3 separate regions of the Homo sapiens genome follow, and all the other regions are linked to region 2. The links come from fine-mapping of genetic effects on gene expression. A gene starts in region 2. Each other region holds a variant in brackets. All regions are shown on one strand. Distances are between the middles of the regions. Region 1 overlaps LOC105369669. Region 2 holds the start of H2AJ (H2A.J histone). Region 3 overlaps LOC105369669.

Region 1 (4,246 bases), 36 kb before region 2:
TGCACTTGCCACTCTCCTACCTTGAATACTCCTCTCTCATATACTTCATTGCTCATTTTCTCACCTCCTTCAGGCTTTACTCAATGTTGCTTTAGTAAAGTCTTCTCTGACCGCTCTATTAAAAATTGCAACCCCTGCCAGGTGCGGTGGCTCACACCTGTAATCCCAGTACTTTGGGAGGCTGAGACAGGTGGATCACCTGAGGTCAGGAGTTCCAGACCAGCCTGACCAACATGGTGAAACCCTGTCTCTACTAAAAATACAAAGTTAGCCGGGCATGGTGGCGCATGCCTGTAATCCCAGCTACGCGGAAGGCTGCGGCAGGATAATTACTTGAACCCAGAGGGCAGAGGTTGCAGTGAGCCGAGATTGCGCCATTGCACTCCAGGCTGGGCAACAAGAGTGAAACTCTGTCTCAAAAAAAAAAAAAAATTGCAACCCCTTCCCCCACCCTGTCTGACTGTACTGTATTTAGAGCTATTTGGCACATGCGCGTGCGCGCGCGCACGCACGCGCACACACACACACACACACACACACACACATATCTGATTTTTTTCTGTTTATTCCCAGTTGAATGTTATGTCCATGACAGCAGGGATTTTTACCTATTGTGTCTGCTGGTGTAGTCCCAGTAACTAAATTGGTGATGGCACAAAAATGGAAAGACAGTTATTTTTAAAGAGATGTTATTATTTATTTATTTTTTCTTTTTTTTAAATTTTACTTTAAGTTCTGGGATACATGTGCAGAACGTGCAGGTTTGTTACATAGGTATACATTTGCCATGGCGTTTAGCTGCCCTTATTTACTTTTTTTAAGATAGTAAGGCTGACTTGATTGGAGGAGGCCATGGCAGCAGCTATAGGAGCCATTGCAGTGGGGTCTTGCAGTGTGGGAGAGAGCTTGGACTCAAGTCCTTTAAAGAGATTTCAGAATAGGATAAAGAAACTGTGGCTCAGAGTGATCCTTAGATTTGTGTAAGTTCACATAAATAACAGTCATGGAAATTGCAATGAAAAGCTCTGTAATTCCATGTCTAATTCTCCCTGCCTCATAGAATGCAGCCCTTCTAACTTCATTATGTTCTAATCTTGGAATGTAGACTACCTCTCAGGGTTGGTGAAAACAAAAAGGATAAGCATGCCATGATCCTTCTAGAACTCAAAACTTGGATTCGTACCTGGGATTTAATGTGGTACCATTTTCAAATAAATCTCCAACTAGAATTATAGCTTCATTTGTTTATTCGTGGCAACAATTTCTTTGGTTGGTGACTGAAGCAAATTTTTCTGAAAAGCCCAAATCCACCATATACCAGGGATCTGCCTCTCATTGGTTTTTGAATATATGTAATTTTTTCTAATACAATGGCTTTCTCAAGTGATCTGGATTGATTGAAGGTGATAGACTGAGTTATATGTTTCCTGTGAGACAACATTAGAGATAATATTGAAATATTAACTACATTAACTATGCAGTTGTAGCAATAATTAATGACCAACAGGAAATTAAAATACCTTGCAAACAGTTTACAGATAACAATAAAAAGGAAATTTTGTAGGCTTCTGGGTAATCATTACATTATTCTCATATTTATAAACTGTTTTTCCAAATAGATATTTTTAAGAAGTTAACAAAGTACTGTGAGTATATGTGCCAAATCAAATAGAACAAAATTTTTACGATGTTTGCCCTCCTCAGTTCTGCTCCACATAGGCAATTTTAAGGTCTTTTGTAAGTTGAAAATATAAATGTCCTTCATCACTGCTTCTATGGGTTCTTTACATCTTTCACTCTAACGATATGCAACTTATATTGCAATTTTGCAAAAACAAAGGAAAAAACGTCTACCATGTGGCTAGCGTAAGTAGCTAGATTCTGCTATCCATTCTGCATGTAGCCATCTGCCTTGTGGGTATAATTGCAATGATCTACATTTCTCACATTGTTAGAGTTAGAAGTATGTGAAAAAGGTAAGTTTTATGGCTGACAAAATTGGATAGAGTTGATATATGTAACTTACATCTAGGGCTGGCACTACACATTAATTTTTTAATTCTAGAAAAAGATGTAGTATATAATAATATGTATCAACTGCTTGGGTGATTTTGACTGAATTAATTGTTGTAAGCAAATTACTGGTAAATGTTATTAAATGCCCATTTTACCTGCAAGAAATGAGTTTCATTTTAGCAAGCTGAAAGACCAACTTGATGAATATATTAAATATTCACTTGAGAATAGTGTATTTCCATATAGCTAGATTATACAAATGTTAAGAACGCTGTCTGCAGTTAATTCTTCAAACTATAAGTGGAAATAAGAACTACTGCTGAATGGGCATAAAATGATATGAAAGCTTAATGAGTTGTTAACTTGATATTTTTAACACTTAAAATTTCAACCCTTACCTGGAATTTGTCTTGCCACTCTGAGCAAGTGAGTACCCAATTAAAATCGCAAGTGTCTTTATTTGTCCATGAATACATTCTCTTCAGTTGGTGACTGACACAA[C/T]ATTCATAGTCCATTTGGAACCCAAATCCATCATCCACCAATGTTCAGTTTCTTCTGGGGTTTGACTAGACAGGCTTTTATCAAAGTCACTCACTAGAGAGCCATCACTTGCTCTGTCAGAAGACATCAAAGGATCACGGAGACTGGACTGGGTGGATGTTTTCCCGTGAGATTATATTGGACATGAAATGCAAAAATAAGTGATAGCCAAAGTGAGCTAGCATATACTTTCTCAAAGTAATCAAAACTGGGCCAAAACCTTTACTGGTTGGTTTCCAAAAATCACTTGGCTTCTCCCATTCCTTGGACCTTTATTCCTCATCATTCTTCTTTTACTATTTGGTCCCTGCCTTTTTACCACTCTCATTAAGTTTATATCTTCTAGATTATAATGATTTCACCTATAGATGACCTTGCAAGCCCAATACCAGCCTGCAACAGCAACTTCCATTTACATGGGGCCTCTTGATGGAATCTGGTCCCCCACCATTCCTTCCACCCTGGCCCATGGACAAGTTTTTCATGACCCTTCATTTCCTTCATGCAGAAGTAGCCAGACAGATTTGATGCTCCCCTTCACCGTGCTGTTTTCCCTTTCTGGAGACCCTAATAGGCAGCAGGTAGACAGGAGCATGAGGGTATACAAAGGGTCAAAGATTTGACCAAGATATTTATTAGGGGAAAATGAGGAGAGCAAAGACCACCTGGTGGTGGCCATTAAGCAGACCATCCAGAGGCAAAACTCCTTCTCTGAGGAATTTAGAAGTAATTACATGTCCCTATTATCTAAAGCTGGCATTGAGTACCTGACTTCTTTCCCAAAAATTTATAAGTAACAAAAATTTCTATACATCTCTGGAATGCACACATGTCGAAACTCGTTGTGCAACCCTTGCTGACATCAAGGCACCAAAATGTCTACAAATGTAATTATTTATTATGGCCTAGGTGGGTAATATGGCCCAAATTACCCTTAAGCTCCCTCTTCAAGGTCCATAAATGCCCCTAAGGAAAAATACATCGTGGTGTGCTCAGTCCTCTCTTGCTGAAGTGCCCCACTGCACTCTGCTGCAGTGTTCTTTCTATCTAATAAAACTTTCCCTTTCAAACCTATACTGCTGTGGGTAAATTCTTCTTTCTACCTCCGAGCCTACCACCTTCCATTGCCGGGGCTCTGACACCTTGCGAAACAAATATAAAGAAGCTTTTATCAAAAAAAGCTTGGGAATCAATCACAGCATTATGCAAATTGGCCATAAAAGCTGCAAGAAAAATTTGAAGAATCCTGTTTTGATATTGGTAAATTTCGAGTTGATTTTCAATTTATGCAATACTTCTTTGAAATCAATGTTAATAATACCAATTTAACACAACAGTTAGTGAATTTACTTAACCTGGATGGAACTAGTTTTGAATCTTATATGTTTTTACTTCAAAGTTAGATCAATTCTTTAAAATGATAAACAAGTTTTGTCAATATAAATGTCCATAGTAAAGAAAAAAAATTTTTTTTGTACTTGATTCAACTATTGAAACATTCTAAAGTATGTTTGAAATAACTTGGATATGTGAAACATTTTCAACTGTAAACTTTATGAAATCCAGTAAATTGAAAAGTCTCCTGATTGAGATGTATGTGTAAAATACACACTAGATTTCAAAAGCTTAGTGCAATAAAAGAATGTATAATGCCTCAAATTTTTGTTTTTGTTTTTGTGACAATCTCACT
Region 2 (4,246 bases):
TAGTCCCAGCTACTCGGGAGGCTGAGGCAGGAGAATGGCGTGAACCCGGGAGACGGAGCTTGCAGTGAGCCGAGATCGCGCCACTGCACTCCAGCCTGGGCGACAGAGCGAGACTCCGTCTCAAAAAAAAAAAAAAAAAATTATTGTAATGGTAAAATCGGTTGACTTACTTATAGTTAAGCTTTCTAAGAAATCAAGACTAGAACATTTTCAAATTAGAAATCTCTTGCTTATTGGAATAAAAGAAAAAAAATCGTGTCTAAAATAGTAATACTTTTAAAAACTCTTGAAAATTCCCCAAGATACAGGCAAAAATTTAAGCTAGTTTACAGAACTCATTCCAGGAACATCTCGTTAAAAACTGCATCAGAGATTTGTATGCCCATTTATTTGGTATATCTAAGAGTTATTGGATGCTTACTAACGTATTTAATTTTCAAAACACTTTGATACAGGTAGAGGAGTCAAATAACTTATCAAAGGTCACTGCTCAGTGGTAAAGCCAGGATTTAGGCTGAGGCAGACTGGCTCCGGAAAGACCGCCTAAACCATGACAATAGCTCTGAAGACATTTATTGAGTCCCCAGTATGGGTTCATCATTGTTCTAGGCAGTAATGACATATACATAAATATTTGAAAATGTTATTTCAATGAAGTCAAATCTTTATTCGGATAGTGAGAAGGTAAATTTGCTTTACTTTAAATGTAAATGAATCCACATAAAATGTTTATTTTAAAAAGCAAGCGTTCAACATTACATCACGTATCGGTGTTAACTGTGTTACTGAAAATGTTCAGGTAAAAATGAAATGACCTCGATGAATTAGGAGAAAGTAATTTTTAATTAAAACAAAACACTTGAAACACTCTTTTTGTTTCAAAAAGCATGGGTCCACAATTCAGGTATATAAGAATAAGCTGCCATTCTGACTTTAGTCTCTGGACTCATTTACAAAGAGACCCGGGGGACCTCCACGTCTTCGCAGAGGACCCGATCCGCTGATCTGTGGCGCCCTGGCTTGCGGGGAGCAAGCCAAGGCCAAGACTTTGGCCTCTCCAATAAAACCTAGTGGCTCTTTGCAGGCCCATAGCCTCAAAGACAAAAGATATTTTGGCTAGGCGAGCTTGTTCCTCCCGTCAGCACAGGAAGCATTCACGTCTGGTCATCACTCTAGCTTCAGACTCAAAAGTGAACGATTGGCTGGCTGTGAGCCGCAGGACCCTGCGGGGAGACCAGGGTGGTCTCTACACTGTTGGGTAGCTAGCTGGAGGCAAGGCGCTTGTATAAGAAACAGTCCACGGACCCTGTCCTGGGCAGGCAGAATTCCGCGGACAGGCTGTTGTTTCGCCTAAGCAGCACGGGCTGCGGAGACAGAAACCTACCTGAGTAGTACGGTGTATTATATGAGAACATCCACTTAGCATAGCAACGTCTACGGACAACCCCTGTAGCTCTTCTTCTGGATTGTTTTCTGTTTCCAACCATGTTTTCTTATTTCCTACGAGTTTATGTGCTTGGAAGCGAGCGTGGTCGTGGAAAACCCGTAACCGCTAAATTCATCTGGGTCCCCAAAGACTGAGCCGGCTGGCCTCGTTATTTATGTGAGCGGCTATGTAAATGAGGATTCGGAGATTGCTCTATTGATTGGAGAGAGCTGGAGGAGGCGGTCTCTCTTCCAGAGCGCTAGTTGGGAGCGGAGCCTGCCTGTCATTGGTCACCAGAGCCAATGGAAAGGGGCTGCCGCGCGGCCGTAAAGAGTTTGTAGAGGCAGTTCGGGTGCGGTACGTTGCATTCCGGTACCGGACGCCGAGAGCGGTTTGTCTCCGTCTCTGGAGTTGTAGGCGAGAGGTGATCATGTCCGGTCGCGGGAAACAGGGCGGCAAAGTGCGAGCAAAGGCCAAATCCCGCTCCTCCCGCGCGGGCCTGCAGTTCCCGGTGGGCCGAGTGCACAGACTGCTGCGCAAAGGGAACTACGCGGAGCGAGTGGGCGCCGGGGCGCCGGTGTACCTGGCGGCGGTGTTGGAGTACCTTACGGCGGAGATCCTGGAGCTGGCTGGCAACGCCGCGCGTGACAACAAGAAGACCAGGATAATTCCCCGCCACCTGCAGCTCGCCATCCGCAACGACGAGGAGTTAAACAAGCTGCTGGGCAAAGTGACCATCGCTCAGGGCGGCGTCCTGCCCAACATCCAGGCCGTGCTGCTGCCCAAGAAGACGGAGAGTCAGAAGACGAAGAGCAAATGACCCTGACGCCGCCCTCAGGGAGCTGGCTCCCCCAGCAAAGGCCCTTTTCATGGTCGTCCCGCAATGCTTTTGAATGTGCTGGATGTCATGGAGGGCCGGTGACATCTAGCGGGGAGGTGGGCGGCGAGGGTCCCGGCGGGAGCCAATAAAGTTGGTGAAAATCGTTTGGTCGAGAGAGCTGTGTAGTCGCGGGGACATGTCGGATGGCCCCAGGGGAGGGGGGCGACCGGGAAACCCCTGGAGCAGGCACTGGTGGGTGGGCTTGAGCCACTCTGGACGGCTTTAGTCCGCAGGTCACCCTCGAGGCGTCAGGGGAGGGTGGCCTGGAGGTGGGCAGGGTGGAAGCCACCTCGCTGTCAGTAGGGCAAAGGGGAGGCAGAGTCGGTGCGGTGAGGCCTCCTTCGGAATTATTTTTACTTCCCTTTCACAGAGCCTTCGCTCTCCTGCCAGTTTGTGAGCACTCAGGACCAAGTTCTGGGAAGATACCGTCGGATCGAGCTGAGCTCGGGGCAGGAAGTGTCTGCGGCCATATTTTTCAAAAAGTGGAGTAACTTTCCGTCTTGGAAGGGTGGCTCTGATGGCACGATGTCAACTTGAGATTCTTCCTAGCCTAGTAGCTGCTGTGCTTTCATGCTTTGGATATCAGATATCTTTATATAGCACTTTTATGTTCATATTTTTTTTTTAATGAAGGAAACGTTCAATAAGTGAGTCATGAGGTTGGAAATTCGTTCCCCTGACAGTCATATTGCATAACATTGCAGCGCCTTTAGTCGTGGGTTACATATGCTTGAGCTTTTAAAGTGATGTTGTCAAGTTTCTAGCTTCATAATGATCCTGTCTTCATCATATCATATTCACTTTGAGAATCGGTTTGACTTTGCTTTCAAACAAAACAAAAACCTCTTGCTTTTAGGGGTTCTTACCCAACAAATAACCTGTTTGAACTCTCTTATATTCTCCCACTAGCCTGAAGCAATGACCTCATTCCAGTAATGTCTTTGGGAGTTGCATTGCCTAATGGCACAATATTGCTTTAATAAACATGTAAGGAAAGATAGGACCAAATATGTAAGTGCAGGGGGAAACACATTTCAGACCAGGAATCCACATTGAAAAGTTAACACTAGTAATCATCTTCTGCCCTTAATTGACACTCCTATTTATTTCATCCTCAGCAAATTTCATCCTGGCTCACAGACCCCACAAAAAAGATCCCAGTACAGATTTCACATCTTTGGATTCATCTTTCCTGTGAGTCGGAATTGAAGTCTTCCCCAAAAATATATGTATATATTGTATGTCTTCATCCTTGGTAGCGGCTGGCCCATTTTCCCACATGGACTTTATTTTGTCCCCAGTATTTATTGAACAGCTGTCTATGCCAGGCTCTGTACAAAGTGATAGGAGTAGAGCTGTGAATGAGGCCAACCAGATTTCCACTCTCTCGGAGCTCACTTTATTTTTATTGGTTCCTGAAGACGGGACAAGGAACAAATACATACGTTAATATGAGAGATCAGCTTCTGTTAGTACTTGTACCTCTCTGCTGTGTGTGGATGAATGATGGAATTACTTCTCCCATGTTGCCATTTTTGAGGTGTACAAAGGTCAGGCCGTACACACCTCTGTTAGGAGGCAAATTATTGGGCAGGTTCGAGATGTTCTGCTATTTACTCTGTGGTTTTGTCATATGTAAAAGTCATAACACCTGTTTTAAGGATTGAGATTGTTCATTTACTGTGTGCCACATATTAGACAATAAATGGAAAAAAGTACCATGTTCAATGGGGGTATGGGTTTATCCTTATAGGTTAAATTATAGGTAAACATTAATAGGACTTTTTAAAAAATGCCTCATTGTTAGAACTACTACTCACAGTTACCACTTGGGGTCAGTGGAACAAAATGCATATATGGTTTTGACATTTGAGTCTAAATTTCTTAAAGGGATGAGGCATCTGAGGGATTGTTACCAAAATGATGAAGAAATAAGGACA
Region 3 (4,246 bases), 26 kb before region 2:
GAGGCCGACCCTCAGGGGTGCATTCTCTTTCTCAGGGATGTTCCTTGCTGAGAAAAAGAATTCAGCGATGATATTTCTCCCATTTGCTTTTGAAAGAAGAGAAATATGGCTGTGTTCCTCCCGGCTCACCAGTAGTCAGAGTTTAAGGTTATCTCTCTTGTTCCCTGAACATTGCTGTTATCCTGTTCTTTTTTCAAGGTGCCCAGATTTCATATTGTTCAAACACACATGCTCTAAAATTTGTGCAGTTAATGCAATCATCACAGGGTCCTGAGGCGACATACATCCTCCTCAGTTTACGAGATGACAGGATTAAGAGATTAAAGTAAAGACAGGCATAGGAAATCACAAGGGTATTGATTGGGGAAGTGATAAGTGTCCATGAAATCTTCACAATTTATGTTTAGAGATTGCAGTAAAGACAGGCGTAAGAAATTATAAAAGTATTAATTTGGGGAACTAATAAATGTCCATGAAATCTTCACAATCCACGTTCTTCTGCCATGGCTTCAGCCGGTCCCTCCGTTCAGGGTCCCTGACTTTCCGCAACAATGAAGCATTGAAAAAAGAAATCTAAGCAGCCCCAAAGATATGAGATAATATTGCAACCCTGAAACAAGAAAAACTATGTGTTTATTTAAAAAGCAATATTCAAAGAGCAAAACAACATCTCACAAAAAAATAAAAAGCCATTAAAAAATTCCATTAGGATGAAAGATAAAGCTTAAGAAACTTCCAATAGTACAGCAAAAAATGCAGAGAATGAATAAAATATAATAATAAATAATAGATTTCTATTAAGAGGGAAGAAAGGAAACAGAGAAAATTATCAAATAAATAATAAGAAATAACAGGCCTACTAAGTACCCTGCACAACAAATGAAGACCTACACCAAACAATGAAGCATTTCAAAGCGCAGCTAGAAAGATACAATTCTAAAAGCTTTTAGACGTAAAAAGTCAAATACATGGGATTAGAAATCAGAATGTCTTTAAATTTCTCAATAGCTTGATGGAAACTAGCTGATATGGTTTAGACCTTTATCCCCTCTAAATCTCATGTTGAACTGTAATCCCCAATGTTGGAGGTGGGGCCTGGTGGGAGATGTTTGGGTCGTGTGGGTGGATCCCTCATGAATAGTTTGGTGCTGTCCCTGCAGTAATCAATTCAGGTAAGATCTGGTTGTTTAAAAGGGTGTGGCACTTCCCCTGTCTCTCTTGCTCTCTCTCTCCCCCTGTGATGTGCTTGCTTCCCTTTGCCTTCTGCCATGATTGAAAGCTTCTTGAGGGCCTCACCAGAAGCAGATACCAACACTATGCTTCCTGTACAGTCTGCGAAACCATGAGGCAATGAAACGTCTTTTCTTTATAAATTACGCAGTCTCAAGTATTGCTTTATAGTGATGCATATGGACTAACACACTAGCAGACAATAGAAAAATGTTTTCAAATTCAAAGGAAAAATGATGTTTTATACTCAAAGTATCAGTCAATTGTAAGAGGAGAATAAAAATTCTTTCAGACATGCAAGTTCTGAAAGACCTAGAGACCAACCCATACAGACTGAATCAGAAGGCTTCAGAAAAAAATTAAACATTTTTCACTTCTGTAGGGGGAATTAAAGGATCAACCATGATCGATAATTTTTAACTCCAGGGAAAACAAAAATTTTTACAAGAAATTTAATCATAAAATATATGGCTCAGTTATGAATAATATTCATGTAGTTATAATAATATAAATACTTGAATACTGATTTAACCAAAAACTGAAATAGACTTGACGGATGGGGGTTGGAAAAGTTCATGAGTAGGTAGAAGGGAGGGATATGTAAGAGAGATAATTTTTCCTCCTTCGTGGTAGGAAGTTTATAGATGAAACCCAAAACTAAAAAGTTTAGATGTAGCAGTTGTTACATGTTATTTAGAAATATAGTGATAATTACCAGAAGAAAAAGCTGGTTGATATCTGGAGAGCAGAAACTGGGTGTAGGGATAGGTGCAGCATTTTTGTCATTCGTTATACACTTTGTAAAACAATTGGATTTTTAAGACTAAATACATGTTTTATTTTGATTAAAAAAATCAAGATTAAATTATAAAAAGAGGCCAGGTGCGGTGGCTCACGCCTGTAATCCTAGCACTTTGGGAGGCCGAGGCAGGTGGATCATGAGGTCAGGAGATCGAGACCATCCTGGCTAACACGGTGAAACC[C/T]CATCTCTACTAAAAATACAAAAAGTTAGCCAGGCATGGTGGCAGTCTCAGCTACTCGGGAGGCTGAGGCAGAATGGTGTGAACCCGGGAGGTGGAGCTTGCAGTGAGCTGAGACTGCGCCACTGCACTCCAGCCTGGGTGACACAGTGAGACTCGTCTCAAAAAAAAAAAAAAAAAAAGAAAGAAGCACTAAGATTAAATGGAGAATTTCTTGTGAGAGTGTGTTGAGTTCACATATTCCCACTAATCTCCAAGACTCCTAACAAAAAATAAAAAATAAACGTAAAGATAAACAACAATTTACAAAGAGCTAAAAACCAAATAGCCAGAAAATGTTGGTAATTGAAAACACGGGTCTGATGCTTTCAAAAGAGGTTTAGGTAAGAAACATAAATTCGAGCATCATCTTTAGTTAGGTGGTAAATTAATACATTAATTTGAATAAACTCATTTTAGGATAAATAATGAGTGAGGAGAGAATGAGCCTTCCTGCTAGAAACAGACTGAAGATCCAGAAACTCAAATTTTAGGGTGCGGTGTGGTGGGTGGGCAGGTGACATGATCCATTAATGCCCACCATCTGGGGAGAAACTAGGAACGGAACTTAAATGGGGGCCCTCACACCTCCGAAGCAATGGCTTAAAACAAAGTATAATCCCTGCTGGGAAGTGTGGCCTGTATCAAGCTGCTGCTCAGAGTGGGAAGAGAGAAGACTGGCAGCCTCCATACCAGGACCAGGGCCATGCCAACCTTTGCTAGGTGCACAAGAGCCCAAAGAGCATTAAATATAAGCTATCAATTTAAGCCTGGAACGGAGCTGAGAAGTCCAGTCAGTCATGTGGACACAATCTTTAAGTAATCAGAGACACAGTAAAATTAAAGAGTATATGGAGCCCCGACCCAGAATGCCATAGAGAGAGAAGATGCAAAACCAAGTGGCTGGGTCATGAGCGATTGACCCAGGTACTTTGGTAAGGGGTTAATAGTGCGGACCCTGGAGCTACATTATAATAATTTAAATCTTGAATCCATTGTTTACTGACAGTATGATGCTAGCTATTTTTACTTATCAGCCAATGTTCTTAGCTTTCTCATCCGTAAAACAGGTGGAAACACAGCACCTGTTTCATAGAATTTTTGTGAATCACCCTTTAAAAAGAGTAAGCACTCAGAAAATATTAACTATAAGTATACTTATGCATACTGTTTATACTATTAATAATTATTTTGTTATGTTAGTATTTTATGAGTTCCAGAAGTAAAAAATGAAGAAAATTAAAAACAAGCAATATTTAAAAAGAAAGTGGCCGCGAATTTTCCCAAATCGAAACCCACATATCTTTTTTTTTTTTTTTTTTTGAGATAGAGTCTCACTCTGTTGCCCAGGCTGGAGTGCAGTGGTGTGATCTCGGCTCACTGCAACCTGCCTCCCGGGTTCAAGCAATTCTCTGCCTCACCTCCCAAGTAGCTGGGATTACAGGCACCTGCCACCATGCCTGGCTAATTTTTTTGTATTTTTAGTAGAGATGGAGTTTCACCATGTTGGCCAGGCTGGTTTTGCACTCCTGACCTCGTGATCCACCAGCCTCGGCCTCCCAAAGTGCTGGATTACAAGCGTGAGCCACCGCGCCTGGCCAAACCCACATATCTTTAAGTGTACTAGAGGCAAAACACCTCAAAGACTGAGAGTCTGATGGAAAGCATGCTACTTTTTCATGCTACGATAACAGTTGCCATAATTAAATAGTTCCAAAGTGCTAAGAGAAAATTTCCCTCAATCTAGAATTTCATAAATAGCTAAACTAACATTAAAAAATAAAGACCAAATATAGACATTTTCAAACATACAAAGATAAAGTTTGCAACCCACACATTCTTGCTAAAAGAAATACTAAAGGGCCCTGGTTCAGAAAGATGTCAAGTGAGTCCAGGAGAGGGAACAGGATGCAAGAAACAACTGTGAATCAGATGTCAGGAAAAATACTGGTAAATGCAATTAGCTATTGATTGTAAAAAACTTAGCTTGTAGTTAC

Evidence for each region.
Region 1: its variant is fine-mapped to the expression of H2AJ in whole blood (TOPMed, PIP 0.96).
Region 3: its variant is fine-mapped to the expression of H2AJ in cerebellar hemisphere (GTEx, PIP 0.92).

What each region holds. Positions count from the first base shown.
Region 1 is chr12:14,736,289-14,740,534 of GRCh38, forward strand. The region is part of intron 2 of LOC105369669; the gene reads right to left. Among named protein-coding and RNA genes, the nearest start is that of H4C16, 33 kb to the right of the region's middle. The variant C/T (reference allele first, on the strand shown) is at 2,518.
Region 2 is chr12:14,772,615-14,776,860 of GRCh38, forward strand. It overlaps H2AJ (H2A.J histone), which reads left to right and starts at 1,791. Exons shown (of 1, transcript NM_177925.5): 1 at 1,791-2,410. The coding sequence starts at 1,857. The coding sequence ends at 2,246. RefSeq lists enhancers at 1,211-2,128, 1,342-1,551, 1,742-2,071, 2,082-2,241, 2,129-3,045 and 1 more.
Region 3 is chr12:14,746,172-14,750,417 of GRCh38, forward strand. All of the region lies in intron 2 of LOC105369669, which reads right to left. Among named protein-coding and RNA genes, the nearest start is that of H4C16, 23 kb to the right of the region's middle. The variant C/T (reference allele first, on the strand shown) is at 2,214.